2 separate regions of the Homo sapiens genome follow, and region 2 is linked to region 1. The links come from fine-mapping of genetic effects on gene expression. A gene starts in region 1. The other region holds a variant in brackets. All regions are shown on one strand. Distances are from middle to middle.

Region 1 (2,915 bases):
GGGCTCTAGGACCGCACCAGGAGAACCTGGCCTCACTTAGAGACTGCCTGTTTTCATACAATGGGTTCAAGCATTCATGTTGCTTGGCGTCAAATTCATTTGAAAAACACCCTTTGTATTCTGACTTAATACCTCCAGGATCCGCAAACAGCATGGTGGCTTTAAACAAGGTGTACCTAGATAATAGATACAAGTTGAGGGAATTTGGAGAGGTGGGGAGACTTTCAAAGCATTAAATGTATTAAAGTCCCATGGTTCACCTCTAGCTTTATGTAAAAATTAAACCTCACCTTTTCATTTTATCAGGCTCCTGTCGATAACAAACACAAACCGCAAGTTCACTGACTCCACACCACGGGGCTCACCAGAAACTTATCTGATCAAAGCTGCCGTAGGTGATTCTTTTTTTCAGCAGGAGGAGGAGGACTTTCTAAAGCAACTCCCAGGACTCGAGATGTTGTAGCCCCCTCCCCACCTTACAGGTCGCAATGACAGCACAACCCTTTCCTTGCCCTTTGCGCACCCCGTGAGCTACGACAGGTGCCTCACTGAGCACCGAATGGGCCAGCCAAGAGATAAAGCAGGCACCAAAGACCGGTGCCTGAGTGGTTTTCCACCCTCACCCATTCACACCCCGGAAACCAGCAAGCACCCCGAGGTGTGGCTGGCTGAGCCCACATCAGGCTTCACCCCCGACTCACATGGCGTCCCCAGGCTCTGCTGACTTCTCACTTGGGTAGTCAAGGACAAACGCTCTATTCACCTGGGGCTATTTCTTCATTCCACAGTCGCACGGCAGAGGGACATAGTACCCTTTGAGCACTTTTATGGGGCAGTAAAACTTTACAGTCTCCTGTCTGCTCTAAACTGTTCCCACATTTCTGAATAGACCTATTTATAACATGCAAGACTACTACAGTTTGCCCTTTGAAAATACTAGCAGATATTAGGTCCTTTCAAATGGGGTCGACTGAGTTACATCGGCTAGCAGCTGGCTTACAGAAACCCCGGAGAGGCCCAGCTAAGCTCCTGACTGTGACTACCTATGTTAGGAAATAAAACAGCATTTGAGTCTCACAACATCACTGGAACTGGCCTTATGCTTTGCCACATTCATGTTGCTTTGGTGTCAAATCCAGCTGTGTCTCTCCCTCGATTTTTTGCTTCCTTACTCCCTTCCTGCCTGGATTAACAGAGCTCACTGTGAGCTTTGTCAGCAAATCCCAGTCTTTTCCTTCCCTCTTCTGCAGGGAAAAAATTAAAACCAGGAAAAAGTAGCAACCCAATCACAACTTGTTTCTCCCAGCCCCGGATTAACCAGCTGGCCCAGAAAAAGAATTATCCCACATTGAGAAGCGTCCTTACCTGCGTTCCATAACGGCCACTCCTGTGCATCGAAGACCAGAGCCAGCCTCCTCCAATCTGGGGACTTAGCTCCCCGCAGCCCGCAGACAACTGGGCCCATTATAGTCATCAAGCTGCCGAGTTAAAGGGTGGCCCTTACTAAAATATAAACAGCTAGTCAGCACAAGCCAAAGGGGCGGGGCTACAGTATCAGGGGACAATGAGAGCCAATGATCAGCCTCTTTGGGCTCTGTTTGCTTAAGATATTGTGTTTCATTCCGAAGTAGGGGAGACGGGAATGAGAAACACTGAAGAGTAAGGGCTGAGTTATCATCTTTACAGCCCCCAGTAGGAAAAGCGTCCAAGTTGAAAAGTTTAAATCACTGCCCACAGAAGACCAATTTCAGGAAAGTGTTTGTAGACTGCACACATAATAATATGTATTTTTAAAGCCACAGATATTTATGTTGCATTAGCTATCTGTTGTCTTCCGGGGTTAATAAATGTGGTATTCATGAGGTCAACGGGAGTTTTTCAACCAAAGAACAAAGGCCAAGAAAGTTAGTTTGATGACATGCTTATTTTATTGAATATACTATCTGATCAGGAGCACTCACCTCATCTACAGAGCAAACACTTGTTTGATTGGCACATCTTTATTTTATTTATTTATTTATTTATTTATTTATTGAGATGGAGTCTCGCTCTGTTGCCCAGGCCGGAGTGCAGTGGCACAATCTTGGCTCACTGCAACCGTAGCCTCCTGGGTTCAAGTGATTCTCCTGCCTCAGCCTCCTGAGTAGCTGGAATTACAGGAATGCACCACCACACCTGGTGAATTTTTGTATTTTTAGTAGAGACGGGGTTTCGCCATGTTGGCCAGGTGGGTCTTGAACTCCTGGCTTCAAGTGATCCGCCCGCCTTGGCCTCCCAAAGTGCTGGGATTACAGGAGTGTGCCACTGCGCCTGGTCTACTATTTTTTTTTTTTTTTTTGAGACAGAGTCTTGCTGTGTTGACCAGGCTGGAGTGCAGTAGTGTGATCTCAGCTCACTGCAAGATTGGTACATCTTTAGAACCCAGAGATATGGATTTATTGTATGCCCAAGTCAGCAAAATGGCTCACATTTGATGTGTTTATGTTCTTCTTCGTGTGTGTGTGTGTGTGTGTGTGTGTGTGTGTGTGTGTAGAGATGTGGGTCTCACTATATCACCCAAGGTGGAGTGCAGTGGCTATTCACAGGCACAATCATTGTGCACTGTAGCCTCAAACTCCTGGGCTCAGGTCATCCTCCTGCCTCAGCCTCCCTAGTAGCTGGGATTACAGGCTTGCACCTATAATCATGCCAGACCATGAGCATTTCATTTGATCAAACATATCAGAAGTTCAGTATATTTGGAAGAAGGCAGGAGAGCCGTGGCTTCTTTCTGTCTCCCAAACTTAACTAAATTCCACTTTTTTTTTTTTTTTTTTTTTTTTGAGATGGAGTCTCGCTCTGTCACCAGGCTTGAGTGCAGTGGCACAATCTTGGCTCACTGCAACCTCCACCTCCCAGGTTCAAGTGATTCTTGT
Region 2 (2,915 bases), 91 kb before region 1:
AAAAAGAGAGAGACCATAAATCAGAGGAGGGAAGGGCTATTTGCATTCCTAACTCTCTTGGCTCATCGGGTACCTTCTTGCTTCCACCCCAACCCCGCCTCAACCCCATTCTTTCTCCAAGTTTCCACCCCTCCTCCTCTCCTTGGGGCTGCTCTCCAGCTACACACAGCTGGAGGTGGTTGCAACTTGCAATGCACACATCCCCTCCCTCCTGCAATGCCGATGCAGTGACAGGGAGGCATCACATGCTCTGCCAACCGTACAGCCTCAGCTCTGGCACAAGAAGACCCTCCCAGGGAAGAGGGGCGTTGGTGGTGGGGGTTAGGGGGAGGATTGCCAATTTTTCCTTCAAGATTTTCAGATTACGGGTGCTATGATTTTTCTATTTCTCTTTTTGCTTATTTTCAGCTTGTAATTTCCTACAATGAATATGCAGCACTTGTGTCTTAAGGAAGAGGAAGAAGAGAAAGGAGGGAGTAGGGAGGAGACTAGAGGCGGAGGAGAAGGAAATACCATCTCTGGAGGAGACTGCATAAGCTCGACTAACAAAATATATCAAATTTTATAGCAGTACATCTCCTAACACCTGCAGGTAGAGTTCTGGGCTGCAGTGTTGCTATTTGCAATGACACGTGCCCAGTTACCCCTTAACCAGTGCCAGCTCAGGCGTCGGGCACAGAAGCCCTCTCCTTACCCACTCGAAAGATCAAATCGTCTTCGATGGGATTCTCTTTTCGTTTTCCAGTGCTGTACATGCTTGCGGGTCTTTTCACAGCTTTCTGCTTGACGTGGCCGCTCCCCGGGGACTTAACGCGCCTCTTCACGCCTTCTGTGGTGGGAGACACATCAGCGGATCGGATCACTTTCAGCTTAAACGGGCTGCCTCGGATGTGCTGGTCATAGAGTCTCAGAGACAGGGTAAAGTCCCCTTCCTTCTGGACAGTGTACAAAAACTCATAGGTGCCGTTCTTGTTGTCCAGGATCTCCCCGTCTGCCACGCTCCCGTCGGGGGTGCTCAGTTCGGCGGTGAGGTAGGCGTTGCCGGTTTTGCACAGCTCACCGTCTTTGTCCTTGGTGGTGATGGTGACGGACATGGGCTGCCCGATGATGGTCTGCCGCAGCCCCTCGCCCGTGGCCACTGTCTCTGAGGCAACGGCGTTGGTGGTTAAGAT[C/T]GTCCCGAGGTTGTGGATGGACTTCTTCAGCCCCTCGGTTTCCACGATGAAATCCAGCTGGTCGTTCTCCCGCGGGTGCAAGGGGAAGTCCTGGTCGGCCAGCTCGTTCAGCTTCTCGCTCATCTGCTTCTTCACCAGTAGGACCTCGGTCTCCGTGCCATGGTTGAGGGCCTGCGCTGTGAAGTTGCTGCAGCTCTTAATGCTCTCCTGCCCCTGGAGCAGAGTATCCAGCTGCGACTGGAGGACCTGCGGGAAAACCGGAGGCCTGGTGAGCTCGTCCCACAGGGCGGGGCCTAGCCCGGGGCAGTGCCCTCCACCGGCGAGAAGGAGACTCTACACCTGCCCACGCAGGTGGCTCTGAGCAAGCGGTGTTTGTCAACCCAGGGAACCCAGTGCTAACGCAAAGTCCTAAACTGCATTCCCAGTACCTTTTCGAGGTTTCCCTTCCGCCTCGCCCTCTCTTCCACACATGTATTTCTTGGCTCATGTGTTTTGGAGAGGGGAAAACAGAAAGGTCACTACCAAGAGCATAGCAAATTAATTGCTATGCCTGACATCTGAAATATTCATTATTCAGTATCTTTCCCCATGTCCCCATGTCCATCACCACCTAAAGGAACAGGAAGTAAACAAATGAAAACTCTCCACACCTGAACATCAGAGGTTTCTCATCCCTGTTTTGTGAACAGACATGCAGAGTTAAACAAAGGCTGCAGTCAGGGTTCATTTTGAAGCTGACTAACAGGTTGGTGTGGGTGAGAGAGCAATTAAGAAACTATTTCATGTTATAACTGAGGAATGAAAACAATCCAGTTTAACTCTAAATGCTAAAAGCATTACATTATATTCAACCTTGCCTCTTGTCAAATTATAAACTAGTACTTAAAGTCACAGAGTCATCGAATTTTGCTGAAAATAGGGGAAAAAATAGCTGGATATTACATTCAGTGAAAACTATAGTTTACTATACAATGATGACACTTAAGGACCCCTTGTTGCTATTAGGAAACAATAAGCTAGTGCCCTTGGATATCATGTCTCTTCCAGGACATCTGTAATGATTCTGGTCTTACTTTGTGTTTGAGGCCATAGTTGACCTCCAATTCCATAAGCAGCACACTCTTGCGCACATTTAAAGTCTTCTGGAGCTCATCAAAGGTGGAATGAATGTCATCCACGATGCTGGCCTTTTGGTTGGTTAACTGATGAATGATTTCAGAGATGAACTGAAGAGCAGAATCTATTTCTGGGAGCCTGGTGGACAGTTGTTAAAGGTCGTTATTTAACCTCAACCCAGAAATATTCCAAAATCTATCTAAACACTACATTTTGTTTAAAAAAATTCTATGCCTTTCATCATCTTTAAAAAAACAATAACCAGAGAACAGAATAAGATATGACATAATTACTGCCTTAGAGAGAAGAGATTTTGTCTCTTCAGAGACAATCAAAATTGTCAATTTCAATCTACCATCAATTGTCCAATTTTAATAATTAATTAAGTGTATAGACTTGAAGCTCTCTGAAAAGCCATTCTGGCCAGGTTAATTCTTCGTTGCAGGGGCCGTCTGGTGCATTGTATGATGTTTAACAGCAGCCTGTCCTCTACCAGATACCAATAGCTCTCCCCGCCCTGCCTCCCTCTCCCCAACCCCCTGCCAAAACACACAGTTGTGATACCAAAAATGTCTCCAGGCATTGCCGAATGGCTGAGAACCACTATTCTAGATAGCTGTATCTTTT

Direction of the effects. Positions count from the first base shown, and alleles are read on the strand shown. Sizes are in standard deviations (SD) of each study's normalised expression.
In carriers of allele C in region 2, the expression in spinal cord of the gene that starts at base 1,483 in region 1 tends to be higher than with T alone (small effect, 0.37 SD a copy in GTEx).

What was found.
Region 2: its variant is fine-mapped to the expression of TRIM2 in spinal cord (GTEx, PIP above 0.99). The same link has a PIP of 0.9 or more in substantia nigra.

What each region holds. Positions count from the first base shown.
Region 1 is chr4:153,203,011-153,205,925 of GRCh38, reverse strand. It overlaps TRIM2 (tripartite motif containing 2), which reads right to left and starts at 1,483. Exons shown (of 12, transcript NM_015271.5): 1 at 1,366-1,483. The coding sequence starts at 1,395.
Region 2 is chr4:153,293,816-153,296,730 of GRCh38, reverse strand. It overlaps TRIM2 (tripartite motif containing 2), which reads right to left. Exons shown (of 12, transcript NM_015271.5): 5 at 2,246-2,426; 6 at 695-1,418. Among named protein-coding and RNA genes, the nearest start is that of MND1, 49 kb to the left of the region's middle. The variant C/T (reference allele first, on the strand shown) is at 1,173.